Linked DNA regions of Homo sapiens. The protein of the gene in region 3 purifies or fractionates together with the protein of the main gene of each other region. This does not show direct contact. Each region holds a gene or a part of one and is shown on either strand. Other genes may lie near its edges.

Evidence for each region.
Region 1: the proteins of TAOK2 (region 3) and PDCD10 purify together in Homo sapiens (affinity purification with mass spectrometry; one large-scale study listed by BioGRID and IntAct). This does not show direct contact.
Region 2: the proteins of TAOK2 (region 3) and ALDH18A1 purify together in Homo sapiens (affinity purification with mass spectrometry; one large-scale study listed by BioGRID and IntAct). This does not show direct contact.
Region 4: the proteins of TAOK2 (region 3) and KLHL36 purify together in Homo sapiens (affinity purification with mass spectrometry; one large-scale study listed by BioGRID and IntAct). This does not show direct contact.
Region 5: the proteins of TAOK2 (region 3) and GLB1 purify together in Homo sapiens (affinity purification with mass spectrometry; one large-scale study listed by BioGRID and IntAct). This does not show direct contact.
Region 6: the proteins of TAOK2 (region 3) and PIP4K2A purify together in Homo sapiens (affinity purification with mass spectrometry; one large-scale study listed by BioGRID and IntAct). This does not show direct contact.

Annotation. Positions count from the first base shown.
Region 1 is NC_000003.12:167,698,707-167,703,918, forward strand, and holds part of PDCD10 (programmed cell death protein 10), read right to left. Parts: intron 1-5,212. UniProt on the Homo sapiens protein: Promotes cell proliferation. Modulates apoptotic pathways. Increases mitogen-activated protein kinase activity and STK26 activity. Important for cell migration, and for normal structure and assembly of the Golgi complex.
Region 2 is NC_000010.11:95,635,489-95,640,700, reverse strand, and holds part of ALDH18A1 (delta-1-pyrroline-5-carboxylate synthase), read left to right. Parts: intron 1-3,264; coding exon 3,265-3,414; intron 3,415-3,503; coding exon 3,504-3,608; intron 3,609-5,212. UniProt on the Homo sapiens protein: Bifunctional enzyme that converts glutamate to glutamate 5-semialdehyde, an intermediate in the biosynthesis of proline, ornithine and arginine.
Region 3 is NC_000016.10:29,982,271-29,986,495, reverse strand, and holds part of TAOK2 (serine/threonine-protein kinase TAO2), read right to left. Parts: intron 3,763-4,225; coding exon 3,595-3,762; intron 3,446-3,594; coding exon of another isoform or gene 3,425-3,445; coding exon 3,164-3,424; intron 2,994-3,163; coding exon 2,832-2,993; intron 1,284-2,831; coding exon 918-1,283; intron 839-917; coding exon 635-838; intron 232-634; coding exon 1-231. UniProt on the Homo sapiens protein: Serine/threonine-protein kinase involved in different processes such as membrane blebbing and apoptotic bodies formation DNA damage response and MAPK14/p38 MAPK stress-activated MAPK cascade.
Region 4 is NC_000016.10:84,655,011-84,659,969, forward strand, and holds part of KLHL36 (kelch-like protein 36), read left to right. Parts: intron 1-1,860; coding exon 1,861-2,934; intron 2,935-4,749; coding exon 4,750-4,907; intron 4,908-4,959.
Region 5 is NC_000003.12:33,012,814-33,018,025, reverse strand, and holds part of GLB1 (beta-galactosidase isoform a preproprotein), read left to right. Parts: intron 1-1,185; coding exon 1,186-1,317; intron 1,318-3,715; coding exon 3,716-3,970; intron 3,971-5,212.
Region 6 is NC_000010.11:22,535,760-22,540,971, reverse strand, and holds part of PIP4K2A (phosphatidylinositol 5-phosphate 4-kinase type-2 alpha), read left to right. Parts: intron 1-897; coding exon 898-1,001; intron 1,002-3,690; coding exon 3,691-3,771; 3' UTR 3,772-5,212. UniProt on the Homo sapiens protein: Catalyzes the phosphorylation of phosphatidylinositol 5-phosphate (PtdIns5P) on the fourth hydroxyl of the myo-inositol ring, to form phosphatidylinositol 4,5-bisphosphate (PtdIns(4,5)P2). Has both ATP- and GTP-dependent kinase activities.

The DNA.
Region 1 (5,212 bases), on a different chromosome or scaffold from region 3:
CTTCCTACATAATGAATTATCTTGGGGAGAGGGGGAACATTCTCTATGTGCTTGCAGGGGACAGAAAAAGAAAAGCATATCTCTGATTAAGTTATAATAAAGTACTGAAAGGTTAAAATGCTGAAAGTCTGAGAATAAAGTTTTCAATACCAAGCTGGTCTGGGACCCCAAAATGCTAAAGCTAGAGCATTACAAAAGTCTCACAAAGGTCCCTAACTTTCTCAGTTTTCAGTGTCCTTAGTGCCAAAAGATACACCTCACAGTGCTGTTTATTAAATACTTAGGTCTAAACAACTTAATAAGTATAGTGTCCTAACTACCTAGCCTTTAAAAAAATAATACACATAAATTGAAAAAAACAATTTTTACTCTGTTCTTAAATAACTATTGTCACTTATTACTGGGATGTGTGTGCCTACTGGGCACTTCATAATTTCTCAAACATTGGTCTTAGATTGGACCTTGCCCCTCTCATTTCCTCTTGCAGATATATTTTTTTCTGGTACTTCTGTTAGATCATAGCACTGGCCAAAAAGTCCAGCTTCTCAATGATCTAACACCAATGAAAGCAGTGAAGGACAATCCAATATGCTAAATTGCAATCCATCTCAAGCTAGGAGTCCATGCAGTGTCAAACAGATGTTGAGTATCACTGTACACCTTCACAATTTTAAAATACTTCGTGGCACCCCTCTGAATTTGCTATGGGCCACCAGGTACCTCAGTACATAGTTTGGAAGGAGTAGTCTCAGTACCTCCTGGCTAAAAACCTGGTTAAGCTAATTCTTATTTCAAAAGCTTGAATTTACCAAATGGCTCTGACTGACAAAATGAATAAATATGGTCTTAAATCAGGGAGACAATCTACAACTCTTAGGTTTTCCCTCAGAATACAACATGAACCCTGTAGGGTGTCTAATCTTTGTAAAGAATCCAGCTGTAAGAAAAAAATAAACCGAAGGGCAGCAACATACACTCTTGTGGATCAGTGATTCTCAGTCTGGAAGACGGACAACCTATCGGAACCTCTCATAGAGGATAAGGGGGAGAGGGAATCAAGTAGAATATAGCTGACCCTTGAAGAACTGGTTTTAACTGCTCAGGTCCATTTACATGCAGATACTTTTCAATAAATATATAGGAAAAATTTTTGGAGATCAGCAACAATTTGAAAAAACTTATAGACAAACTGAGTAGCCTATAAGTAGTGAAAAAAATAATAAAAACACATGTTATGAATGCATAAAATATAGTTATCCACTAGTCTATTTTAGTATTTACTATAAAATAGATACAAATTATTAAAAAGTTAAAATTTATCAAAACTCACACGCAAACAGACTGTACATGGTGTTATTTGCAGTTAAAAGAAATATAAACAAATATACAGATGCAATATTAAATCATAACTGCACAAAATTAACTGTAGTACACGTGTATATGTAATAAGTTTGAAGCCACCTCCTGTTGCTATTGCAGTCAGTTCAAGTATTAGTAAGTATATGATTAAAACGCCATGTGACTCTAATCAACTCCATGTGAACAGTTCATCTCTCCAGCAAACTGCACATCCCAGTACAAAGTAATACCTCCCAGCCCTCACATATTTTTCTCATCGTGTTTAGTGCAATACTTTAAACATGGGATAATACCATGGGACCCGACAAAGTGCCACTAGTGATGTTGGAAGTGTGCTCAAGAAGCAAAGTCATGACATTACAAGAAGGTGTATTGCATGATACTGAATTGCTTGAATACAGTCTAAGACTCACTGTAAGAAAAAAAAAAAAGGAAATTCATGAAACAAAGCCATTGCTGCAGCTACATCAGCAGGTACAAAAACCTTGCATGTTTTGTGAAATACCTTTTTGTCTCCTGTTGAAAATGCAGCTTTTATGTTGGTGCAGGATATCTATAAGAAAGGCATACCTATAGACCCTAATATGATTCAAGAAAAAGCAAAGTCATTCTATGACAACTTAAAGCAAAAGGAAAGTCTAAAGCTGAAGAATTTAATGCCAGCCAAGGATAGTTTGATAATTTTAGAAAGAGGTTTTGCTTAAAAAATGTCAAGATAACAGGAGACCCAGATTCTGATGACCAAGAGGCAGCAAATAAGTCCCCACACACCATTAAGAAAATCTTTGAGGAAAAAAATATCTGCCTGAAAAGGTTTTTAATACAGATCAAAGTGCCCTATTCTGAAGGAAAAAATAGCCACAAAGAATATTTATTAGTAAAGCAGAGAAGTGAGCACCAGAATTTAAGGCAGGAAGAGATAGGACAACTCTACTGTTCTGTGCAAATGAAGTCTGGTTTATGATCAGGACTGTCCTTATTTATAATGCTGCTAAACCCTCAAGCCTTGAAGGGAGAAGAAAAACACCAGCTTCCAGTCTTGTGGTTGTACAAGAAGACCTAGACAAAGAGAACCCTTGTTCTAGCCTGGTACCATCAATGCGTTGTTTCTGCGGTTAGAAAGCATCTTGGCAGGAAGGGATGGTCTTCTGAAGTTCTTCTGATTGTCTATATATATCTATAGAGATACCTATATATCTCTATATAGCTAGATCTACAGATATCAGATATATATTGAGATATCAGATATATATATAGATATCAGAGATATCTACATATACATACACACACATATATATGTATTGTATATTTAATTAGAGACAAGGTCTTCCTATGTTGCCTAGGCTGGTCTTGAACTTCTGGCCTCTGGCCTCACACTTCAGCCTCCCAAAGTGCTAGGATTACAAGGCATGGGCCTCCGCACCTAGCCTTTATTATTATTGTTGTTCAAAAAAATTCTTCTGATACTGGATAATGTCCCTTGCTTCCCAGAACCCCATGAGTTCAACACTGAAAGGCATCAAAGTGGCCTACTTGTCCCAAAACACCACACCTCTAAATCAGCCTCTACATCAGGGGATCAAGAACCTTTAAAGCTCATTATACATGGAACCATAAGGCCTCTATGGAAATGGCTGTCAACAATCCTTGGTAGAAAGAATACCATGAAAGTCTGGAAGAATTACACCACTGATGCTACTGTTGTTATAGAAAAACCCATCGAGCCTAAAACAATAAATTTCTGCTGGAGAAAACTGTGTCCACATGTTGTGCATGACTCCACAGGATTTACAACAGAGCCACGGAAATCATGAAAGAGATTGTAGATATGGTTAAAAAAAACGTAGAGGATGAAAGGTTTCAAGATATGGATATCAGAGAAATTTAAGAGCTAATGGACAATGAGGAAGAAGACAAAGGAGTGCCAGAAAACAAATGGACATTAGACAACCCAGCAGAAGAGTTCTCTTTATTCAAGGCTGCTTTATGACATGGACCCTTCTCTGATACAAGCACTGAAACTAAAGCAAATGTTGGAAGATTGGTACTGTACAGAAACATTTTTAGAGAAATGACAAAGCAAATAAGTCAGAAATTAAACATATTTCTGTAAAGTTACACTAAGTGTGCCTGCCTCTCTTGCCTCCCCATTCACCTTCTCTACTTCTGACATCCCTGAGCTAGCAAGACCAACCCCTTCTCTTCTTCCTCCTCCTCAGCGTATTCAATGTGAAAACGACAAGGATGCAGACCTTATGATGATCCACTTCAACTTAATGAATAATAAATATATTTTCTCTTATGATTTTCTTAATAACACTTTCTTTTCTGTGACTTTAAGAATACAGTATGTAATATATAGGATACACAAAACATATGTTAATCAACTGTTTTTGCTACCAGTAAGATGTTCTGGTCAACAGTAGGCTTTTAGTAGTTAAGATTTGTGGAAGTCAAAACTTATACTCAAATCTTCAACTCTGCAGGGGGTCAGCACCTCTAACCTCCACACTGTTCAAAGGTTAACTGTATATACATTAAAATATTCAATGGTATTATCTTGGGAAAAACTATTTTAATCCTCTTTTCCCTCCAAATAACAAAAACCATGATGAAAATTATTGTCGTTGCGGACCAATAATTGGAATTATGAATATAAAAGATTTTATGACTGGTGAGGTTTCTTTCATCTTTTTCAAAAGTTGTAATTTAAAAAATACAAGCATCTTTACATTTTTAACATGTCCTCCTTCAATTTCACTTGAAATGTAACAAACTAAATGTGATAATTAAAAATACATCAGTGTAAAATTAGTTACTTTGTTTTCTTCCAAAATAAGTAATCTATGCCATAGACAACAAACTTTATCCATGGATCAAACCACATCTATCACGGTCACATAATTGTACTTAAGTGTTAGATAATTAGCTTATATGTTAGGATGTTACAAGAAAAACCCTCAGGAAATTTATTATTTTATTTTATGAATGTCATTGAAGATACTATCTACTCCTTCGGACAGGGTCTTCTTCTCTCTGTTCCTGGCATTAGAAAAGCTGAAATATTGACTTTTCTCTTAGCAATACTACTGTACAGATTACTTTTCCTTCTTCTTTTGGCCACAAAGATGCTTAAGATAGCATCATGTCTCCCTAATGACCAAATATGCCATTCCAAAGCCAAACTGACACTCAAAGAAGAAAACAACAATAAAAAAAAAGAAAATGATTATGGTGTTGCTTCATTAACCCAATGATTTGGCAGGATGCAATTTAATGAAGCTACTAAATATATATGTACTCACCTTGAATCACAGAATATTAAATCAAAAAAGCTCTATTCTAACATACGTAATGTAGATTATTAAAGTAATATGAGATACCTAGTGACATGACTTGTGCTACCAGAAAAGAGTGTTATCAATAAACTTGTGTGACATGGAAGAAATCAAGCAGAATGGGCTTATAGTTTCAACTCCAATTAAAATATAAATGTATTCCACATTTAAACATTAAAATACTTTACCTAAAACACAGGTTATTTGAGCTACTGATGGGAAGGAATGCAAAAATAAAAATTAAAGTTTTGGGCACCATAATATATATTTGGGATGGAGGACCAGATAAAAGTTTTATATTAAAGAATGCATTCAACATGTACAGTAAGTCTCTAGAGTAGGGCTGTACAACAGAAATGTAATATCAGCAACAACTATGAGCTACCTATGTAATATTAAGCGGCCACATTTAAAAAAAAGTAAAAAGACACAGGTAAAATTATTTTAATAGTACATCCAAAATATTATTTCAACATGTAATCATTATAAAATATTTATTACTAAGCTAGTTTACT
Region 2 (5,212 bases), on a different chromosome or scaffold from region 3:
TTAAACTGGCTTCCACTGGCCATAAATGGGATGATGTAAACATCAAGAAAGGGAATCACAGCTGGGCACAGTGGCTTACACCTGTAATCCCAACACCTTGGGAGGCCAAGGTGGGCAGATCACCTGAGGTCAGGAGTTCAAGACTAGCCTGGCCAACATGGTGAAACCTCATCTCTACTAAAGATACAAAAATTAGCCAGGAATGGTGGCACCTGCCTGTAATCCTAGCTACTTGGTAGGCTGAAGCAGTAGAATTGCTTGAACCTGGGAGGTGGAGGTTGCAGTGAGACAAGATCGCACCACTGCACTTCAGCCTGGGCGAGAGTGAGACTCAGTCTCAAAAAAAAAAAGAAAAAAGGGAATCACTGCACAATACAACAAAATATGTTTAAATCCATGAGTTCATAATTATACTTAAAAAAAAAACTTCATTGGCCATTTTTGGAGGCCACTAGAGAAGCTACTCATATTGAAAATGGATGAGTAAAGGGGAAGAGACACACATTTGTCCTGCTTTTCATAGACAAACTGTACCTCAGGGTAACCAAATAGTTGGTAAAGGAGAGTTTCCCTTTTGGAATTATTCCAGATTATAAATGACGAAGGAATCATTGAGTTAGAGTGTCAGCATTTTGCATCTCCTAATGGAATAATGGATCTTGGCAATGATCATCAACAGATGCTAACATCACAAAAAGAAAGATAACCAGGCATTATGTATCCCCTTGATGAACATGTACACCACAACTTATAAAGACTTGTTGGGGAAAAAAAAAAAAGCCTTCATACCAAACAGCAGTTTATAGGGTATACAAAGAGCAGTATTAATACCATAAGGACACAATTGGGAAAATGTAGGCTGGGAAATCCTAAAGAATAAACAACTCAGTTTAACAAAAAATTACAAGGGGGAAAACTGATGGAGAAGGGAACCCATGAATGAAAGAGACTTGAGAGACACTTCAATTAATTTGTAATGCAGGGTTTAATTTGCATCTCAATTTGAGCAAGGTAAAAAAAAATTGGAAAAATATGAACACTGGCTATTTGATATGAAGGAAATCATTGAAATATTCCAGATAATGGATTTGTGGAGAGAGAAAGACATATAATTATATATTATATATAATATATATGATTATCTTTTAGCAGTTATTACTGAGCTATTTACAGATGAAATAACATGTCTGTTGCCTGGAATTTGTATTAAAACAATGGTGAGGGTATAGAGGGGTTATTGGAGAGTGGGAAGTTGGCCATGAGAGATAGTTGGTGAAACTGGGTGGTATGTACATGGGGATTTATAATACTATTCTCAGCACTTTGGTTAAGTATTAAATTTTCTTTTTCTTTTTCTTTTTATTTATTTTAGAGAGAGGGTCTTGCTCTGTCACCTAGACTGGAATGCAGTGGTGTAATCATAGTTCACTGCAGCCCTGAACTCCAGGGCTCAGTTGGGATCCTTCTTCAGCCTCCTGAGTAGCTGGGACTACAGGCACATGCTACTTGGCTATTATTTTTTTTAATTTTTCATAGATATGGGGTCTTACTATTTTGCTCAGGCTGGTTTCGAATTCCTGGCCTCAAGCAGTCGTCCCACCTCAGCCAGCTGAAACTTTCTGTGATAAAATATTATTGTCGGGGCCAGGCACAGTGGCTCACACCTGTAATCCCAGCACTTTGGGAAGCCAAGGTGGCTACTCAAGGGGCTGAGGTCAGGGGGTTGCTTGAGTCCTGGAGGTCAGGGCTACAGTGAGCCATGATTGTGCCACTGTCCTCCAGCATGGGTGACAAAGCAAGACTGTGTTTCAAAAAAAAAAAAGTTATTATTGTTTTAAATCATGGTTTATCATAGCTGTTTGTTAAACAGCTGGACCAGTTAAAAGGTTTCAGACATCAGAAGGAAAGGACAGTTTAGGAATATTGACTTTATTACATCTTGAGTCTTTAATTTTTTCATGTAGGTCTGCTTAAGGTAGGAAACAAAGTGACCGCATTTGGTCTTGGGCAGACAGAGCAGAACAAGGTCAGCATGTGCCCCTGGTGTAGGCAGAGGCAACCCATAGGATTAGACATGCCACCAGAACAGCCTCCTTTACCCGGGTTAAGCCTTAGAACCTGAGAAGCCATCTACTGAGTCTGCGTTGCATTTCCTACCTGCGGACTTTTATTCTGGGCTTCATTTCTTGGAGGAACTAGGCCTTCTGCATTACACACTCCCTGCAAATATTAGGTTGGCACAAAAGTAATTGTGGTTTTTGCCATTACTGTCAATGGTAAAACTGCAATTACTTTTGCACCAACCTAATACAGTCAAGTCCTATAGATGTCAAACTTGGCTACACACCAGAATTTCCTCATTAAAAATGTCTTACTTAGGCCAGGCATGGTGGCTCATGTCTGTAATCCCAATGCTTTGGGAGGCCGTGGCAGGAGGATGGATTAAGACCAGAAGTTTGAGGCCAGCCTGGGCAACATAGTGAGACTCTGTTTCTACAAAAATGTGTTAAAAAAGAAAAATTAGCTGGGCATGGTGGCATGAGCCTGTAGTTCCAGCTACTTGTGAGGCTGAGGCAGGAGGATCACTTGAGCCTAGGCAGCCAAGGCTGCAGTGAGCCACATTCATGCCACGGCACTCCAGCCTGGGCGACAGAGCAAGACTCTGCCTTAAAAAAATTTTTTTCTTAGGGTGTTGTTGTTGTTGTTGTTGTTGTTGTTGTTGTTGTTGTTGTTTTTGAGACAGCATCTCTCTCATTCTATTGCCCAGGTTGGAGTGTGGTGGTGCGATCATGGGTTACTGCAGTCTTAACCTCCCTGAGCTCAGGTGATCCTCCTACCTCAGCCTCCCAAGTAGCTGGCATGCACTACCATGCCTGGCTAAATTTTGTACTTTTTGTAGAGATTGGGTCTTGCCATGTTGCCTGGGTGGTCTTGAACCTCCTGGGCTCAGGCATTGTGCCTGCCTTGGCCTCCCAAAGTGCTGGGATTACAGGCATGAGCCACCATGCCCAGCCAATTGTTTTAATTAAAAAATAAATTAAAATGTCTGATTTTTGTCTGCCACCTGCTAAATAGAAATTTGAGACAGGATGTAGGAATCTGTGTTTTTACCAATCTGGCTGATTCTTCCAGAGCCAGCCACATGCTGGTTCATAAACCAGCATTTGGGATCTACTCGATAGCCCACCCTACCTCCATCCCTTGTGAAGAGATGAAAGAGACAGTACGGTAACTTACAGTCCCCTTTCCTTTCTCAATGCCCAGGTATCAGTGCTGCAGAATCAGGGCAGAGAGATGATGCTGGTGACCAGTGGAGCCGTAGCCTTTGGCAAACAACGCTTGCGCCATGAGATCCTTCTGTCTCAGAGCGTGCGGCAGGCCCTCCACTCGGGGCAGAACCAGCTGAAAGAAATGGTGAGTGCTGCTTCCCCACACATTGAAATGGATCTTCAGGTCTTCTTCCCTCATTCCCTACCACACCTTGTCTCATTGGTATATTACAGGCAATTCCAGTCTTAGAGGCACGAGCCTGTGCAGCTGCCGGACAGAGTGGGCTGATGGCCTTGTATGAGGCTATGTTTACCCAGTACAGCATCTGTGCTGCCCAGGTGAGAGGCTGGGCTTTGAAATGGGTGTGGGACCTGTGAGGGTGGTTGTTGTGGAACAAAGGGGTCTGGAGCCAGACTATTGGAATATGGTGTCAGCTTCATCACTTGCTACTTGAGATCTGAAGAAAGTTTCTTTTCCTTTTTGTGCCTCAGTTTCCTCATCTGAAAATGGGGATAATATCAGTGCCTATTTCAGATAATTTTTGGAAGGGCTCAGTGAGAAAATATATGAAAAGCATTTAGTATAGTGTTTGGTACATAATACATTGTCAGTAAATATCAGTTCTTGTTACACTAATAACTTAGGATTCCAAGTGCTAACACTTCTGAAGACAGAGAAGTTAAATGTCTTTATTTCACTGGCTTCTTTGATTTCAGGTGGCTTGCTTCTCTTTGCACCTGGTTGGTTGCCTTTTATAGCAGATATTTATTAAGCTTTGAAGGGAAAGAGGAATGCTGGTGATTGGTTGGTTTTTCACTCATTCAGCAAATATTTATTGAGCACCTATGGTGTACCTAGCAGTCTTGGGCATTGGGGATACTGTGGTGAACAAATCAGACATGATTCCAGTCCTCATGGGACTTACGAATTTTTGGTGGCTACCCCTAAATGTTCTAGAACCTTCTTTCTACATTGTTTCATTTTTACCTAAATCTCCTGAATTTTTTTGAATTATATTCTTAATCAACTGTACAACTACACACTAGAGACATCTCAATAACAGTCACTTCAGGAAACAACTGAAAAAAAAATCTAACTCCCAAATTATTTTATTTTGAAATTCCTTTACCTGTAAAGATGTAAAATAGCTGTTATTTTATATTATGGATATTATTTTACATGTACACTACATGCACAGATGTTATTTTACACAGGTGATATTGTTATATATACATATATTGTTTCAGGTTTTGCTTCTTCATTTCCTGTTACTTTTTTTTGTTTCTCCATCATTTGCCTGTTTGTACCCACAGTGATGTTCTGGTATTACACCAGAGTGTCCTCAAGTCAGTGAGGTAAAACAGAAAGGCACGGACTTGTCCCATTGCCTATGGCTGGGGACCCCACTTTCTGTAGTCTTAGCTTTTTTTCTGTTAGTATAAATACAGTATAAATCTCTATTTATATCACTCTTCTTTATTATTTGGTTTCTCTTCACAGTCCAATGACAACTTTGGTCTTTAATTTTTTTAAAGTGCCTGGAGCCAGGTGAGGAAGCTCAAGTCAGGGAGCTATGGTTTTGCTTTGGTTTGGTTTTTCCCAGGGATGAAACCTTTTGAGAGTTTGTTTTTGTTTTATTTTGTTTTGAATGATGGTAGCATTAAGAGTCCATGCAGCATCAGCCATTGTTTCCATTTACATTGAGTGAAAGAAGAGCCCTGCCCCCTCCAGTTCCCAACAAGCTTCAACCCCTGGGCTCTTTCCTCTCACACCTGTGTCTTCCCCCAAGGCCATCATATCTACAGAAAATATTTGCCCTTTGTACCTTTTCCTGTGGTTCCTTATTTTCTTCAGTAATCCTATATAGAAGACCATTGTCAGTGGCTTTTGAAAATTTCCAGTAGGTGGTTTGCCAGGTTAAAGACTTAAACACTTAAAACAG
Region 3 (4,225 bases):
CTTGGGCTGCTGGCGAACCTGGGCCGCATGCTTCTGCCGCAACTCTTGCTCACGCCGCTTGTTGTACTCCAGCTGGTTGCCCAGCTCCGTCTGGTGCTGCAGGCGGGTGAGCTCAGCCCGCGTGCGCTGCACGGCCTGGAGCTGCCGCAGCTCCAGCTCCCGCGTGGCCTCGTGCTGCCGAAGCAGCAGTGCACACTCCAAGTCCTTCTGGGTCTGCTTCTTGTTCAGGTCCTGAGGCAGAAGAAATGCAGGGCCCGGGGCCTGGTCAGTATCAAGGAAGTGAGAGGCCAGGGCTCCTTGGCAGAGGGAGCTGGGGATGGCGGAAGAAACACAGGGCCCAGGGCCTGGTCAGTATCAAGGAAGTGAGGGGCCAGGGCTCCTTGGCAGAGGGAGCTGGGGATGGCAGGAGATGAGGGTGTAGGGGAGGCAAGCTCCTCCCTGGCCTGGGAAAAGAGGCCTAAGGAAATTCTGGCAGGGTCTGTTGGGGATGAGAAGTAAAAGGGGCACTGAAGCAAAGCTGAACTGTAACACTCGAGGGCCAAGGAGAAAGAAGACAAGAATGAGGAAAATGGAAAAGGGTGGGTCCCTGGGATCCACGAGTGAGCGGGAGGGGAACAGAGATTGGGATGCCTACCTCCCGCAGCAGGTCCTGGTCCAGGCTGTGCCGAGCCAGCAACATCTTGCGCTTGTACTGGCGACACTGCAGCTCAAAGTACTGGCGCTGCCGCCGCAGCAGCCCTGCTTCCTCCTCCGCCTGGCACTGCTGGAGCTGCTCCTTCTGCCGCAGCAGCCACTCGGCCTTCTCCCGCTTGGGAGTGCTGGGGTTCTCCTGGAGCTCCTGGGCGAGTGCAGAGGGAAGCAGGGTCAGGACCCACCTGGCTCGCCATCGGCTCCGCCCCCAAGCAGCCCTAGCTCACCTCCTTCAGCTGTTCCTTGCGAAGTTTGTAGGTCCGCTTCTGTGCCTCCAGCAGGGCAGCCAGCTCCTTCTTCTGCTGCCCAAGGATGTGCTGCTGGAACTTCCGCTCCTCGGCCTGGGCAGCTCGTGCCTCCTTCTCACCTATGGCCTGGTGCCGCCGGGCCAGCTTTTCTGCCTCTGCCCCAAAGCCAGCCCGCTGCGCCTCAAGCTCCCGCTGCAGCCGTGCACTGTGCTCCTCCCGTTCACCCCTCAGCCGTGACTCCAGGGCCAGCAGCTGCTTCTGGTGCTGTCGTCGCATCCGCTTATAGCCGCTCAGCTGCTCCCGCAGCGCAGAGTCCTGCTCATGCTCCTGGATCTGACGGCTGACCTGGGGAAGGAGAGAGGGTGAGAGCTGGGGCTCAGCCTGGCCCCTAGTTAATTAACACAAGGGGTCTTCCGTGGGGAAGAGCATGGGTTTTCAACTCATGGGTTTCATTCTCATTTAACACCTTCCTCACACACGGCCACTCTAGCCTGTTTCCTCAACTGGATAATGGTGATATTATCTACATCACAAGTTGGTGTGGCCGAATGATAAAAGGTGGCGAGCACAGGGCCTGGCACAAAAGTAGGAACAATCCATACTAATTTGAAACAGTGAGTCAGACATACCTGGGATCAAATCCCAGCTTTGCCACTTACCAAGCATGTGATCTCAAGTAAGTTAACTTCTCAAAGCACCAGTTCCCTCATCTGTTAAATGGGGAAATAATACCTCCTCATAGGGGCTGTGGGGTAAGTTCGGACTCTATCTAATAAGTGTTGGCTTCCTTCCCCTTCAGCAAACATGGTCGGCCTATCACTCCCCAGGTATTGAGGTGGGATCGGGGCCACAAGATGCTGGAATAACAAGAACACTGGGCTTGGACACCTTCATCCAAAGTCTGATCTCAGGTCTCATTCTCAATTGACTCTATGAGTGGCTCTCAAACTAGTCCCGGCAGCCAAGCCCCTGGCAGTCAAGACCTCTCAGCACAGTACCGCACAACACCATGGGATCTGAAGAATTGTTGGAACACAACCAGCACCAAGCAGAGGCCATAAGAACATACTAGACTTAATCAGTGGCCTCTAAGGGGATTGTTGACGCTCAAATGCAGCTCAGCAGGAACGTGATCTAAAAACATAGATGAAAAACTATGTTTTATGAAAAGCCTAAACACTTTTTCCTGTGAACTGAGAAAGACTGCCATGAGTTGATTTTAGGAGAGGACTAAGGGCCTGCTTACAGGAGCAGAGAGCCACCAAAGGCACTGGGGCAAGTGGCCCCTCTGAGCCACAGGTGCCTCATTTCTCCAATGGGATCTTACCCTTCCCCTCCCAGGGGGGCTGGGAGGGTTAACACAGGCCTGTGTGTAAGCCTGAGAGCTAACTGCTGGCATGAGACAGATATCTGAACACCATCCCTGCCCTCTGGGGCACAGAATCTGGCAAACCTATCATGATGCTGTTCAGGACCACCCAAGCACAGGGCACCCCCGGCACAGGGCTCCCCAGCACTGGACACCCCCAGCACAGGGCTCCACAGGCACAGGGCTCCCCCAGCACTGGGCTTCCCCAGCACACAACTGTGAAGCATCTGACTCACCAGAGGAGCCTGGGAAGGCAACCCAGGAGATGTCAGTTAAGTCAGGCCACAAAAACGGAGTAAGAGTTTGCCAAGCTAGAAACACCCAGATTGGGCCATATGACCAAAACAGTCCACTGGGAAGAGGAGGGAAGCAGGAGGGTTAAGGGGAGCAGGCAGGAGCCAGCAACAGAAAATGAGGGTAGAATCCAGACTCAATCCCATGCCACAGGGAGGAAATCATTTCTAGACTTAAAAAGACTTAAAAAACAGACAGCGAGCAGGCTGAGTGAGGATGGCTACACTCACCAGGGAGGCGGTTCGGATGGTGGCAAAGTGGTCTCGGTTACGGCAGTAGGCCCGGCGGCGGGCGGAAGAGGTGGTGGAAGTGGGAGCTGGGGCTGCAGGCGGCTGGAGAGGGCTGGGGGTTATCTCTGGCTGGTAGGGGTCATCATATAGGTTGTCAGAGCCCTAGAGGGAGATAGAAGGAACACCCAAGGCTCAGAGGCCACTGGGTCCAAAGAGAGCTACCTGAGGACAGCCAATCAGACTCAGAGGAGTGCTGCACTTAGGGAAGGAGGGCGAAGACCCAGGCAGTTCTAGAGCAGGTGGCTCGGGTCCCCCAAGGGTGAGCTGTGTACCGGCAGCCGGTGGATAATGGAGCTGTGAGAGGTGACTGTGTGCTCCCCCTCCTGCATCATGGCCATCTCCCGGGCTTCAGGGCCTTCTTCCTCCTCCTCCTCTTCCTCCTCCTCCTCCTCCTCTTCCTCGTTGTCTGAGGCATCTGCTAGGCTGTTGACGGAGCTGCTCTGGCTGGAGGCGCTGATGGACATGCTGGGCACTGAGTGGCTACTCTCGAGGCTGGTCAGAGTCCCGGCCCGGTGCATGTAGGGCTCGGCCTCCTGCGAACAGGGCGTAGGCTGCTGGACAGGGAAGGGGAAGCCCTGGGGCATATGCATGGAGGTAGCATGGGAAGATGGTGGTGTGAGTAGGGCTGGGGAAGGGGCCAAGCAACTGCAGGGGGCAGGCACACATGGGGTATAAAGAGGGGTGTTAGGGCAAGCTGGGTCACCTCTTCCTCCTCTGGGGCCTCGGCACCAGGGCCGTTGGGTGCCTCTTGGAACAGGATCTTCTTCATCTTGCGGTACTGCAGGTTGTCCAGCTCCCGCACGGCATCCTTGGTCCTCTGGATCAGGTCCATGATGACTGTGGGTGGCCGCTCCCGGAGCACAAAGCGGTGCTGGGGGAAGAGGGCACTGAGGTCTGCTGCCAACTCCCCTTCCCCCCACAACCCACAGCCCTTGGCATTCCCTCAGGCCTGAGGCACTCTTCTGGGGCCCACGCCCACCACGGGTTGATGCTGGCCTTATCCCAAGCCCTTCTCTCACAATTTTCTGTACCACCCAGTACCTACTCCCCAGACAGACTCTTCTTCCTCTAAGCATGGCTGACAGGCAGGGACAGTCAGGAGAACTGGATTCTCGTCCAGCTCCTCTACTAAAGGGCTATGTGACCTTGGACATGTCATGAGGCCCCTCTGGGCTTCATACAGTATCCTACAATTATAAAACAAGTGGGTCCAACTACATAATCTGAAGTTTCCAACTACGGCTCCTCAGGCCCCCATGGGTCTGTGAAGGGAATGGGGCCCCTCCATTTTTGATAATTCAAAAAACACCTAAGGGAAATCATACATTTACCCA
Region 4 (4,959 bases), about 55 Mb from region 3:
AAGCCCGGTGTAGGCCAGCCTGGCTCTCTTTGTGGGTAACCAGGATAAATAGAGATCTCCACGTGTGTGACCTGTGAACTGAAAAGCCAGCCTGGAATGGAAGAGCGGGAGAGCCCGTCCTCTGAACTCAGAAGGAAATGCCAAGTCGGATCTGTCTGGCATCCTCCACAGGCTGTGAGAATGTGGCCTGCTCCTGTAGCATGGACAGAGAAGTTGCTGTTGGAATTGACTGGATGTGGAAATACCACAGGGAAATAAAGTGTCTCAATGACAAACGCATGTATGGCAACAAAAAGAAGATTTGAAAGGGAAGAAAAAAATAAAACCCACTGCTGTAGGACACATGTTAAGAAGCAACTTTTAAGAATTCAGAGCCTGGGCAGTTTAGGGAGACGTTGTCCCTGCAAATTATAAAAATCAGACAGGCGTGGTAGCGTGTGCCTGTAGTCCCAGTTACTCAGGAGGCTAAGGCGGAAGAATCACTTGAGCCCAGGAGGTCAAGGGCGACATAGTGAGACCTCGTCTCTACAAAAAAATTTTAAAATTAGCCAGGCATGGTGGCACACACCCGTAGTCCCAGCTACTCAGGAGGCTGAGGTGGGAGAATCACTTGAGCCCAGGAGGTCAAGGGTGCAGTGAGCCGAGATTGTGCCACTGCACTCCAGCCTGGGCAACAGAGTGAGACCCTGTCTCAAAAAAAAAAAAAAAAAAGTCGAACCACATAGCTGCTAATACCTAATAGCCCTCGGTCAGTTTTCTTCCTCCAACCACATTTCCCCTCTTCAGGCTAGTGCCCAGCCAGTTCTTCACCTCAGTCACCCTGGAATAGACCAGCTATCTATGTGATAGTTTTCAGTTACCTGTTTCTCCCTATGTTGAATTCATTTATTTATTTATTTAGAGACAGGGTTTCTTTTTGTCGTCCAGGCTGGAGTGCAGTGGCACAATCATGGCTCACTGCAGCCTCAAGCTCCTGGGCTTGAGCGATCCTCCTGCCTCAGCCTCCTGAGCAGCTGGGACTACAGGCGAATGCCACCACGCCCACCTAATTTTTAAATATTTTGTTAAGACAGGAATCTCGCTATGTTGCCCAGGTTGGTCTCGAACTTCCTGGCCTCAAGTGATTCTCCCGTCTCAGTCTCACAAAGCATTGAGATTACAGGCATGAGCCACCATGCCTGGCTTGAATTGTTGTGTTGTTTGGTTTTGGGTTTTTTTGGTTTGTTTTTTGTTTTTTCTTGTTTGTTTTGTTTTGTTTGTTTGTTTTTTGTTTTTTGAGACGGAGTTCTTGCTCTGTCTCCCAGGCTGGAGTGTAGTGGTGTGCTCTTGGCTCACTGCAACCTCCATCTCCTGGGTTCAAGCAATTCTCCTGCCTCAGCCTCCTGAGTAGCTAGGATTACAGGCACACGCCACCATGCCTGGCTAAATTTTGTATTTTTAGTAGAGACAGGGTTTCACCATGTTGGCCAGGCTGCTCTCAAACTCCAGTAGCCGGGCTGTCGTCCCAGCTACTCAGGAGGCTGAGGCAGGAGAATCACTTGAACCCGGGAGGCAGAGGTTGCAGTGAGCTGAGGTTGTGCCACTGCACTCCAGCCTGGGCGACAGAGCAAGGCTCTGTGTCAAAAAAAAAAAAAGAAAGAAAGAAAGAAAGAAGTTATATTAATAAGAGAAGGAAAAAAAAAACCACGATACACAGGCATACTCAGAAACACCTGTACTTCCTGCAGTGCCCTCTGATGCAGCATTTTATTTCCTGTTTTCTTCAGTTTCATTTTGTTGAAAATGCTGGTCAGGACCCACTGGGTTGGACCAGGGCCGAGCAGGCTGCTGCGCCGTTTCTAATGTGTCTTCTCTGTCCAGGTATACCGCTGGGCCGACCACTCAAGCACGGTGCTGCAGCGGCTGAACGAGCAGCGTCTCCGCGGGCTCTTCTGCGACGTCGTCCTGGTGGCCGATGAGCAGCGTGTGCCAGCCCATCGCAACCTGCTGGCCGTGTGCAGCGACTACTTCAACTCCATGTTCACCATCGGCATGCGGGAAGCTTTCCAGAAGGAGGTGGAGCTGATCGGCGCCTCCTACATTGGGCTCAAGGCCGTGGTGGACTTCCTGTACGGCGGGGAGCTGGTGCTGGATGGCGGCAACATTGACTACGTCCTGGAGACGGCTCACCTGCTGCAGATCTGGACGGTGGTAGACTTCTGCTGTGAGTACCTGGAGCAGGAGGTGAGCGAGGACAACTACCTGTACCTGCAGGAGCTGGCCTCCATCTACAGCCTCAAGCGGCTTGATGCCTTCATCGATGGCTTCATCCTGAACCACTTCGGCACGCTGTCCTTTACGCCCGACTTCCTGCAGAACGTCTCCATGCAGAAGCTGTGTGTCTACCTGAGCAGCAGCGAGGTGCAGCGGGAGTGTGAGCACGACCTCCTGCAGGCCGCCCTGCAGTGGCTGACGCAGCAGCCCGAGCGCGAGGCCCACGCCCGCCAGGTGCTGGAGAACATCCACTTCCCGCTCATCCCCAAGAACGACCTGCTGCACCGCGTCAAGCCGGCCGTGTGCTCGCTGCTGCCCAAGGAGGCCAACTGCGAGGGCTTCATCGAGGAGGCCGTGCGCTACCACAACAACCTGGCGGCCCAGCCCGTCATGCAGACCAAGCGCACGGCGCTGCGCACCAACCAGGAGCGCCTGCTGTTTGTGGGCGGCGAGGTCTCCGAGCGGTGTCTGGAGCTCAGTGACGACACCTGCTACCTGGACGCCAAGAGCGAGCAGTGGGTCAAAGAGACGCCGCTGCCCGCCCGGCGGAGCCACCACTGTGTCGCGGTGCTGGGGGGCTTCATCTTCATCGCCGGCGGCAGCTTCTCACGGGACAACGGAGGGGATGCGGCCTCCAATCTTCTTTATAGGTATGACCCCCGCTGTAAACAGTGGATCAAGGTGAGATTAAAGCCAGATTATTTCTTTTCTCTTGAGGACTCTCTCGGTTTCCTTAACCTAGCCTTGACTTTCCTTACCTCTCTGGGGCCTTGACAACTATCCTGCTTCTGAATGAGGTGTGATGATAAAGTGACGAGCAGAATACCCCGGGGCCTACATCCTGGACAGGGAGAGGGAGAGCCGACCCACCCCTTCGAGGGGTCCGTCATCGTTCAGAGCAGCACTGCCTGGCGGGGCTTTCTGTGCAGATGGAAGGGTCTGTCTGTACTTCCCGATACGGTAGCCACAGCCGCATGTGGCGACTGAGCACTTGAAATGTGGCCAGTGCGACTGAAGAAGTCAATTTTCAATTTTATTTCACTTTAACCGATTGACGTGTAAGTGTATGTGGCCGCACGAGGCGTGGCTACCCTATTGGACAGTAGCATGGGTCTAGATGTTTGATCCATGGTTCAACATCCCCAGGTCCTGGAGTCTCTGTGGGGCTCCTCTGGAAGCATTTTGGGAGATAGTTTAAGGAGACCACTAGTGCTCACGCCTGGCCCTTGGGCATGTATTGTGTCCTGATTCTGGGAAGAGCGTGGGCCTTGATGTCAGACCTGAGGTCTCATCCCAGCCTGGCTAAGTCATAGCTAGGAAATTTCAGATTCTTGTCCTCTCCACATTTTGGATTCCCCTTCTGGGAATACGTGGGGGACAGGGAGTGCAGTAGCTCATGTTGACTGGCAAGCCCCTGGCGTAGGGAAGGTGTCTCCTTTCTGCTGGGAGCGCTCTCCAGCCACTCGGTCCCCGGGACAGTCCATCTCAGCCTCTATACTCACACCTCAGCGTCGCGCCCAGCTCAGTGCTGTTCTCAGCTCAAAACCCAGTCAGAATGGACTCCAGCTGACCTTTTGATTTTACTCTCAGAAATCTGAGACTGCCCTCCAAGGTCGAAGTGTCACCACTGGAAAGGGTCCCTGGCTTTGGAGCCTCCTCCCGAAGCCTGGCAGCAGTGGCAGCAGTGTGTTTGCCTTGGATTCGTTTAAAAAAAGAAAAAAAAAAGTTGGCTCTTCTACTTTTTGTGTGTGTGTGTGTGAGACAGAGTTGTTCTGTCACCCAAGCTGGAGTGCAGTGGCACGATCTCGGCTAATTGCAACCTCTGCCTCCCAGGTTCAAACAATTCTGGCGCCTCAACCTACTGAGTAGCTGGAATTACAGGCGCCTGCCACCACGCCCGGCTAATTTTTGTATTTTCAGTAGAGACGGGGTTTCACCATGTTGGCCAGGCTGGTCTCGAACTCCGTGACCTCAGGTAATCCACCCACCTTGGCTTCCCAAAGTGCCAGGATTACAGGCGTGAGCCACCGCGCCCAGCCTCTTCTGTTTAATTTCCTGTCGAATGCCACGTCCTGCTCTGTTAACACGGAGTGGCAGAGCAGCACTAACTTTACAAATCTGATGTGGGGAGAGGAAAGATGAATTTTTATTTCATAAAGCCACTAGATCAGCAATTCTGACCCCTGTGACCACAGAGTTCCCATCCACGCGGCTAACGACATGACCAGAGAAGTTCGGGGGTTCAGAGCATCTCCATCCCCCTTTTGGGGACTCAGAGCGTCTCCATCCCACTTTTGGGGATTCAGAGCATCTTGGTGAAACCTCGGGGGCTCAGAGCTCCCACCTGAAGAAGCCCTCTTTATTCAGGTGCAGTTCCCTTTCCCAAACATTCTCCGGGGTTGTGCATTCCGCAGACACATTTGGGAACCGCAGCGCCAGATGTTGATGCTGTCCCGGGTTCGGGGAAGGGAAGGTACAGGTATCTCAACTCCACAGGTGGCCTCCATGAACCAGCGCCGTGTGGATTTCTACCTTGCCTCCATCGAAGACATGCTGGTGGCCATCGGCGGCCGGAATGAGAACGGAGCGCTCTCTTCAGTAGAGACGTACAGTCCCAAGACTGACTCCTGGTCCTATGTGGCCGGCTTGCCAAGGTGATCTGGGGCTTGGTGGAAGGTTCTCCAAATGGGATGTTTTTAAGGGACA
Region 5 (5,212 bases), on a different chromosome or scaffold from region 3:
AGGCATGACCCACCACGGTGGGCTCCACCCCTCTTCTTGGTGACCCTTAGCTGTGCCTCTTGCTTGCTGTGAGGCCTCATGCATGTGCCATTTGCTGAAATCCACCCTACCCACCATCTTAACCCAGAGGGCTGTGCTTGATGCGCCACCCTCTCAGAAGCCTTCGGGGTCTCCCCAGCCAAGGCCGCCCTTCTGTGACTGATGTTGCCTGTGCTTTCTTTGCTCCTTAAGGGTGGGGTCCATTTCCAATTCAATTTTGTACCTGCCACTGTACAAAGTTTGTTGAACTTCGTGCCTTTATCCTACATGAGAAATTATATTCTGAAGGACTGCTCGTGACAACTATTACTGAAATGCACAAAGAACCGTGTTTCATAACAAAAGCAGATGCATTTCAGGACTTCCAGTCCTCTCACCGAAATGGTCACAGGAAGGAACACAGGAAAAGATTTTCTTCACCAAGAAAATTTGTTCAGAAGATTTTAAAATATTTCCCATTCTCTTGTAATCAACAGCTTTCATTTCAGTGGGAGCAGATTACTAAGACATTCTGCTCTATTGATGGTGACTGTTTCTTCGCTTCTAACTTGGGTGTTGTCTTAGTGAATTATGATCATTGTAAGGTCAATTTTTAAAGTCTAACCTTTTAAAAAGTTAGGAATATGTTGTTGATAAAATACCTGTTGTTTTTCCTCATTCTGTTGTATGATTTTCGTGGTTAATGCATCATGTCAAGTATTTTGAGGTGAGAATACTCCACCTAACTTCTCTGATTTTATCTCTTTTGTCTGATTTTGTCTTATCTCTCCATGTTGTTCAGAAGCAATTTTTTGTGAGTGACTTTTGTGCTGTCAGAACACGAAGCAGCTACTCTAGTAAGAATCCTCCCCTGGAATTTTCCACTAAAAGTAGTTGGCAGTAAAACATTCCAGGGCAAAGGAAACCAGCTTAGACCGTTCCATGCTCTGAGCTGTGTCTGGCAGTTTTCCTGTTTAGGAAGCAGTGATTGGGGGATCTTTCCGACCTGGCCGGTAACTTGGGCTAAGATGCTATCAAAGCATTTCTTTCCAAGTCTGGTGACACTTCAAGGCAAGAAAATGAGTGCTAAATTAACTGAGCATGCTGCCTCTCCTTGCTGACCTTCTTACCCTCAATTCAATTGTCATTTGGTCTTGAACCCCACAGATCCCCCAGGGAGTCCTTGAGCGAAACAATGTGATCACTCTGAACATAACAGGGAAAGCTGGAGCCACTCTGGACCTTCTGGTAGAGAACATGGGACGTGTGAACTATGGTGCATATATCAACGATTTTAAGGTAGGACAAACCACACTGTCAAGACTAAGGTTTAAGGGGTGACAACTTAGAAGTTGAAGCCCAGTACAGTGGCTCACACCTGTAATCTCAGCACTTTGGGAAGCCAAGGCAGGAGGATCACTTGAGGCCAGGAGTTCAAGACCAGCCTGGGTAAAATAGTGAGACCTCTACAAAGAATTAAAAACTTAGCCAGGTGTGGTGACATGCACCTGTGGTCTCAGCTACTCAGGAGGCTGAGGCAGGAGAATTGCTTGAGTCCAGAAGTTGGAGATTAAAATGACCTATGATCATGCCACTGCACTCTAGTCTGGGTGACAAAGTGAGACCTTGTCTCAAAAAAAAGAAGTAGTTGAGCTATTTTGAAGAGCTGTTTTCCTCTGTAGGTGATGAGAAAGTTGAGCTTTGCAAACAGAACCTTTCCCCTGTGTTTGAGTTTGGTCATCCTATAGAAAGAAACAGAAGGAGGAAGCCCCTCCACCATGCTTTTCCTCTGCTTTAAAAGACCACCAAGCTCACTGAAGGCACTCCTTTGCCAGTAAAGCCAGCTGAGCCTCTGTTCTGCCCTGTTTTATGGGTTTGGATGGTTAGCCTGTGGCAAACTCTTCACTTGTAGGAAGCCTCTTCCCTTGGGGCACTGGCTCTCACCTCTGTTGATTACTCCTGTGTCCAGATGTGTAGCCCAAATAAGTTTTTCTAACACATATTTTTAGAGCATTATTCAGCAAGCATTTGTTAAGCTCCCACTCCGCGAGATGCCCCACCAGGTGCTTTGGGGAATGCAAAGGTGTCAAGAGACAGGCTTCTCTCAGGGAGCTCAACCTCCGCGAGAGGAGAGAATGCCTTATCAAGGGAACAATGGCACCACCCAGGCTAGGGCAGGACAGGTGTCTGGGGCTATTTCCTGACCCTCTTGAGATCAGGCAATTACATCTTAGGGAACTTAGGGAATAGCTGTGTGCAGGCCACCTTTGCCTCCAGTATAAATGTCTCTCTCATAGTTCTTGTGCTCAGGGTGGACTTCATGGCCTCCTGCCTGGCTCTCACAGGCCACATTGACCCATGGGAGTGACTCGACTCTGTTGTGTAGTCTCTGGGTCTCCAGTACCTGTCAAAGAGCCTGACATACAGCCACCTGGTTAATATTTATCAAATTATTAAATGGGCAATCGAGACTTGGTATCTGGGATTCCACTGGGAATGGGGAAGTTCCCTACATACAAGCCAGGGAAGGGGAAGTTAGCTGAGCCTTGACAGCCCAGCCCTGGCCTGTGTGGAACAAATAGAGCAGCTTCTGAATTCAGGTCTGAGGTTTGCCATCGTCATCATTACCTTCCTATCCTCTTAAGGTATCACAGTATTCTCATGTATGTTATCTCACTTGGCCCTCATAACAGGTGAGTGACTCGGGTGTGGTCCTCCCTGTGATGATGGCTGAGGTGCTCAAGGCCAATATTTGCTCCTGGCTGCATCCGTCGTACCTGCTCCATCCGCAGTGGGATGACTATTCCTTTGTATCCCACACTCACTCATTCCTTCTGTCCCCAGATTCCATCTTGAGACAGGATCTTGCTGTCACCCAGCCTGGAGCGCAGTGGCACAATCTCGGCTTACTGCAACCTCTGTCTCCTGGGCTCAAGCAATCCTCCCTTCTCAGCCTCCCAAGTAGTTGGGACTATACGTGCATGCCCCCACACTAGGCCAATTTCTGTATGTTTTGTAGAGACTGGATCCCTTTTTGTTTTGAGATGGAGTGTCGCTCTGACACCCAGGCTGGAGTACAGTGGCGCGATCTCAGCTCACTGCAACCTCCACCTGTCAGGTTCAAGCGATTCTCATGCCTCAGCCTCCTGAGTATCTGGGATTACAGGCACCTGCCACCACACCCAGCTAACTTTTGTATTTTTAGTAAAGATGGGGTTTCATCATGTTGGCCAGGTTGGTCTTGAACTCCTAACCTCAAGTGATCTGTCTGCCTTGGCCTCTCAAAGTGCTGGGATTACAGGCATGAGCCACTGCGCCTGGCCCATCTTTCTTGGTGCCCATCTTTCTCTATTCTAGCAGTGGCTCTCAGCCAAACTCTGAAAATTTGGGAATTTGGGATCAATCACTCTAGCAACTCAATGCCCTTTCTGTAGAAGCAGAAACTCTGGGCCTTTTATAGAGACATCATGACCTGCAAAGGAGAAAGCTATAGTTTGGGGAATATATCTCTTCCCAAGGATTTGTAATTCAACCTCCAGTTAGATCTGTGTTACTTCGATGTACACATATTTCGAGGTTCATTTCCTGTTGGTGTTTTGTATCCCGGTTTGCTTTTCCCATTTCCCTGGAATGCAGAGACATGTGAAGCCTTTTTCCTTCCCTCCCCAGCTCACTGTGCTCTGTTTCTGCTTTGCAGGGTTTGGTTTCTAACCTGACTCTCAGTTCCAATATCCTCACGGACTGGACGATCTTTCCACTGGACACTGAGGATGCAGTGTGCAGCCACCTGGGGGGCTGGGGACACCGTGACAGTGGCCACCATGATGAAGCCTGGGCCCACAACTCATCCAACTACACGCTCCCGGCCTTTTATATGGGGAACTTCTCCATTCCCAGTGGGATCCCAGACTTGCCCCAGGACACCTTTATCCAGTTTCCTGGATGGACCAAGGTACGTGTCTTCATGGGAAGGGTTTGAATTCAGGCCTAAACTTTTGGTTGTTAGTGTCTGAGAAAGAATCACAAAGAGCTGTTAGTGAGATATCGTGTGATGGTTTTGAGTGTGGCGTTTCGGACATTCTTCAGGAGGCGGATTGTGGCAGATCTTCAGGGATTCAGTGGCCAGCTCGGAGGTGCTGCCATCTGCCCCCTTGTCATTGGCTTCCTGTAGTGAATGACACCATCCTGCCTCCTCCAAGAAGAATCATGACCCCTTTTGATGCTGATTATAGGGGTGCTTTCTCTTTATCTTGAGGACAATCCAGTCAAGACAAAGAGGTGGATCCCTCTGGGAGAGTCTGTCTGGTTTTCATTTATGCCAAGCCCAGTGCTCCCAGAATATCCCCACCTGCATCCAGCCCCACACCCCTGGGGCTTCTATCATAAGCTGTCTGCTTCTCCACTCTTCCTCATCCATTTTCACTTCCCAGTCACTCCGCCTTGTCGTTTGAAGACATTGGCATATCTTCCTTCACCGCCTTCTCCTCTCCCTCATGTCCTGTTTTCATCCTAGATCACCTTACCATCACTCATTCAACACACTTCTCATTCTGTGGCCACTATGTGCCCAAGGTGTGTGCCAGGCACTAAGGATACAATCATGAATAAAACCAAACATGGTCCTTTCCCTCATGGAACTTTCAGTCTAGTGAGGGAGGCAGACTCATATTAAAAAGTAAAACCATAGCTGTGATGGATGCTAAGAAGGGCTATGGGGTTGATAATAATTGGTGCATTTTGCCTTGTCAGGGAGGTCAGGGAAGCCTTCCCTAAGATAGTGATGCTTGTCAGAGATATGAAGGATGAGTAAGAATTAGCATGGCAAGAAGGGAAGAAAGCATGTTCCTGGGAGAGGTAACAGCTTGTGCAAAGGCCATGGGGTTGGAGGGGAAAATGTCAAGTGTGGAAAGTAGGTAGAGACTAGATTGGGACGGGCCTTATAGGCCACGTTAAAGTTTTGTCTTTGTGTTGAGAGCCATTGAAGCAGGAGAGTGACATGATAAGACTGTGATCTGACAAGCTCCTCTGACCCCATTGTGCAGAATGGTTTGGGTAAGGACACTTATGGATTCGAGGAAACCATCTAGGAGGCTGGACCATAGTCTCATTGAGAAACTGGGATGGTGGTATCTAAGATGGAGATGACATCAACTATTTGAGAGATGTTCAAAGTTGGATCAATAAATTGTGACAA
Region 6 (5,212 bases), on a different chromosome or scaffold from region 3:
AGTTCTGTTTTGTTCTGTTTTGCTCACCAAAATGTTTTCTTCAACACAGAAAATTAGATAGTCAAATGTACTTTTCTTACTGTTCATATTTTTGGAAATGGATAGAAAACAGACACGGGCCGGGCGCAGTGGTTCATGCCTGTAATCCCAGCACTTTGGGAGGCCGCGGCAGGCAGATCACCTGAGGTCATGAGTTTGAGACCAGCCTGACCTACATGGAGAAACCCCATCTCTACTAAAAATATGAAATTAGCTGGGCATAGTGATGCATGCCTGTAATCCCGGCTACTCGGCAGGCTGAGGCAGGAGTCACTTGAACTCGGGAGGTGGAGGTTGCTGTGAGCCAAGATCGCACCATTGCACTCCAGCCTGGGCAACAAGAACAAAACTCTGTCTCAAAAAAAGAAAATAGACATTGGAGTGGATGTATGCCTTTATCCAGTTCTGATACTGTATCCAGTGAGAATTATGAACAGTTCTACCATTTGATGTAAAGGATTAGTGTACATAATTAGTTCTGTTTTATAGGGTATTTTTAAATAGCATATTTCTTCACACCAAAGCAATACACAATTATTAAAGAAAATGCAAATTAAAAAAAAAAAAAGACTCCGTTCCACCGTTGGATCTCCACTGTTGATACCCTGGTGTGATGATGTTTTTAGTTGTTAGGGTTGTTTCTTTTTAAATTGCAGGGGGACTGGGTCAGAGAGGCAAGCTGTGTGTTTAGTCAGGATCCGCAGGGGTGGTGTAGAGTTTGTCTCTGGACTCCTTCCATCCGCGTTCCATTGAATCCCCTCCCTCCAGGCTCACTTCTCCCTCCCTCCCTCCCTCAGCAGCAATGCTGGCACTGGTGTTGTCACATGTCCCACAGTCATTGCTCTCCTGTCTCTGCAGACTCGCCTAGGAAGGAGGTGTACTTCATGGCAATTATTGACATCCTTACTCATTATGATGCAAAAAAGAAAGCTGCCCATGCTGCAAAAACTGTTAAACATGGCGTGAGTATCTCCATTTTGTTTCCTTCTCTCTTTCTCTCCCTCTCTCTCTCTCTCTCTCCCTCTCTCTCTCTCTCTCTCTCTCTCCTGGCTCCTCTGTGTGACCTGTAACTCAGGGATCACTCCTTTCTGCCACTGAGCTGCTTTCTACTGAGCCATTCAAAGCCCTTTAGTGACGCTTGTTCCCTGGGGGCAAGTCATGTTCTGAGCGTAAGATACAGAACCCACAAACGCTTACTGCTCACTGCTGCTCTTACCACAGCTCCCTGTGGCTTCCAGCGAAGTCACTTAAACATGAACATCTCTTCTTTTTACACATGGCGGACACTAACAGGCATGCGCATCACTAGGATGTTACACAAATTCTTTTTTGTTTGAAAAATGTTCCAGAGATAAAAGTGCAAAAGAAGATAATGAAGTGTTCTAATATGAAATATTCAAAACTGAAGCATGATTGTCTGCTTAAGACACTTCCCAAGTATACAGGATTAATATTTCTTTTCTCACAGTGAGTTGTATTTTTTCTACTACAGAAATCTCTTGAGTGCAAAATCAAAGTTGCATAATATTACTCACCGTTAATGTTGCTTGATGGGAGTTTTCACTGCTCTAGCCATATGTTAAGCTATTTTATCCCCCATGAGAAGCCTATGAAAGAGATAGTAGTGTACCTGCTTTTGTCAGTTGGAGAAACTGAGGAAAATAGCTTCAGGAGTAACTTGCCAGGGCCTCATAGTAGCAAGTGGCAGAGATGAGATTCCTCCCCCGGACCCAGCCCCCTCCTGGCTCTGTGTTCATGCTCATCCCCTTGCCCTGCCTGCAAACACCTCCTGCCTGGCTGAACTTTACAGCTCGCCAAGTTTCAGGCTTGTATTGCAGGGTGCCATCTTTGTTTTGCAGAGGTCCTGAAAGCCATAGAGCCCACCCCACACAGATGAATGTATTCCCTGGTTTGTTGGCCCTGGAAGAAGAGGTGCTTCCCACAGACTGTGTAGAACTAATGAAGATTCACCAGAACCAAAAACTCACTTGAAACCTCTTCTTTTCTATTTTAAAATAGAAATCAGCCTAACAAACACAGTATTCTATTTGCCAAAGAAATATTTCAGTCACATTGTCGATAGCTATGGTATTCCTGCTGTGTGCAGAGCACAGACTGGGACCTCACCGCCCCCGAGCACGTCAGTAAGCAAGTGTGCCTGGTGGCTTCCCCCCAACAGAAATTTTTGAGTACTCTTTTTAAACAAACATCCGCACCAGGTGCACCACCCCCATTCCGTCATTTCTGAGGCCAGTTCAGGAGGGTGAGGGAGGGGTCTTCAGAAGACTCCATGGTCATTCTGATGCTCACCTCTGGTTGAAAACCATGGAGTGTGGCAAAGAGAGAACTGGCGAGGAATCCTCGTTTGACCCTTCCCACTTGTATGACCTCAAGGGGACACTTTTGGAGCTCCTGTTTTTTCACCTCATACAGAAATCCTACTGCCTTGCTGATGGGGTTTTGCCAGAGATACAAGAGTTGTCTGGACAAATGCTTTGTAAATGTCTGTTCCCATATTATACATCCTGTGAAATTGGAGTGTATCCTAGCCAATATGGCTCCATGTTCATCTCTCCTATCCTAGCCAATATGGCTCCATGTTCATCTCCCCATAAGCCACAAGTTCGCCTCCATAGTGTGCCACACGGCATAAAATCACAGGTAGTTTGCAAGAAGAAAACATTACTGTCAGCAAAGGAACGCTGTGTTAAGCTGCTGTGGGGGACCATTCTCTCTGCATTCAAGCCTGGGCTCCTCCATGCAGCCGAGGCCTGGAAATATTACAAGTTCCCCGGTGAACATGGGTGTCTAAAAACAGCACATGCTCACTTAGCAAAACTCCGTGCTTGCCCTTTGCAGCTCAGGAAACTGGCCAGTGAGTGACTCCCTTGAGTGTGCTGGCCTGCACCCTGCATCTCATCATGGAAAAATCCCTCACCGTGCTTCTGCAGGGGGCCAGGCTTGCTTGCTCTCTGCAGGGCTCAGAAAGGGGAACAGTGGCACCCCTGTGTGCTGCTGCAGAGGGAAGTCAGCTCCTTCCCCCGTGGGCAAGATGGAGCCAGCAGTGTTGTGCCTCACCTGGTTACGGTGCAGGGAATGGGCTGGGGGCAGCTGTCCCAGAACCTGTGGCTGCTGCTGTTGCCCCTCATGTTTGAGCACTGAGCTGGGGGCCTCTGTCCAGAAACGAAGGGGTCCTGAAGAAATCATGCGGTTTTAAGTCATCGTCATTAAGGTTTCCCTTTCGCCAAATGTTGATGTCATTCTCAAGGTGGCTCCAGTCTGCCTTCTTGAAAAGTATAACATAAGTATTGTTTCCGTGACTTCTGAACAATTCCACTCTTTGATAGTAACATCCCAAACGTGGCCTGTTTGATTTTTTTGTGAGTTGCAACAGCCCCGGTGTGTGTGGTAGCATCTGGTGCTCCTGTCGCCCTTTGTCTCATTTGCAGACACAGATTTGTAAGAACCTTGCTTATTCAACCATGAGCGCCAAGATATTTTGAGTGATGTTTTTCAGAGCAGAGACTGCATGGATTTGAAAATTGCTTGCTGTATATTCAGTTGCCATTGGAAATAGCTGTAGATATTGAGTAATAATTTGGGGAAATCATAAACACTATGTCAATATTTCCTTTTTTAAAAACTGCCCAGGCTGGCGCGGAGATCTCCACCGTGAACCCAGAACAGTATTCAAAGCGCTTTTTGGACTTTATTGGCCACATCTTGACGTAACCTCCTGCGCAGCCTCGGACAGACATGAACATTGGATGGACAGAGGTGGCTTCGGTGTAGGAAAAATGAAAACCAAACTCAGTGAAGTACTCATCTTGCAGGAAGCAAACCTCCTTGTTTACATCTTCAGGCCAAGATGACTGATTTGGGGGCTACTCGCTTTACAGCTACCTGATTTTCCCAGCATCGTTCTAGCTATTTCTGACTTTGTGTATATGTGTGTGTGTGTGTGTTGGGGGGGGGTGAGTGTGTGCGCGCGTGTGCATTTTAAAAGTCATAAATTAATTAAAACAGATCCACTTCGGTCAGTATGTGTCCCAACAAAGACCCTTTGATTCCAGCTATGGCCGAATGAATGAGTGAGTGAGTGAGTGAGTGAATGAACACACGTGTGGGGGAGGGGAGAAGGAAGTGCATGATGTCAGGCACCGTGTTGGCATCACACAACAAACTGTGGATCAGTTTTTTTTTTTTTTTTTTTTTTTTGGAGTTGAAAGATGTGAGACAGTATTCAGAATAATGAAGATAATAATGATGATTATTATAATAATGATGATGATTCCAAGGAAAAAACCTACAGCGAATGTTCCATTTCTACCCCGCACGCAGACACTCTCCCTAACACTGATAACCTGAGCCCCCAGCACTGGACGGAAGAATGCTGGCGTCTCCGTGTGTACTGGTTCAGGGTTCTGGCCCCAGCCTTGTCAGGACCCCCTGGTGTCCAGAGCCCCCACCCCTCCCGCAACAAGCAGCTGATGCCCCAGTGATTCTCTATACATTTTTCACCTCGGCCAATATGTCCAGGAAAACTGCTTACTTCTCTTTTCTTGCCTGGAGCCTTCATTGTTCACCCTTACGTTGCAATATAGGAATTAATGCTACAAAATAAAAGTAAAGCTTACCTGAAAAGTGCATAGTTTGGGGCAATGGTATCTACATCTCCCACTGTGGGAAAACCAGCAAAGCATCAAAACTCTCAATTCTCCTGTTACCAAATGCAGATCTGAATTATAAGATGTTTATGTTTGACCATTGTTTCAACAATGGGATTTTGTTACGAATTATCCCTTTAACTGAAACCCTCAGTTTTACTGTTTACATTATTAGGAAAACAGGGATATCTTTTGAATCTAAAAATTTGATGTACAGCATGTGATTTTTGAAGTTTACATGTAAAGTCACAGTATAGGTGAAATAACGTTTGTCATATTTTGAGACGTATCCTGCAGCCATGTTTTTACGTGAGTGTTTTAGTCAAAGTACATGGTAGACAGTCTTTCACAATAAAAGGAAAAGGATTTTTTTTTCCTCCAAATGTACATTTATCAACCTAATGATTGATTTTTTTAAAAAGAGATTTCGCCCCAGTCTGGTTTATGAAAGTTCATTGCCCTAAACTGTGCTGATTGTTTTTAATCAAGTTATAAATTTCCAACCT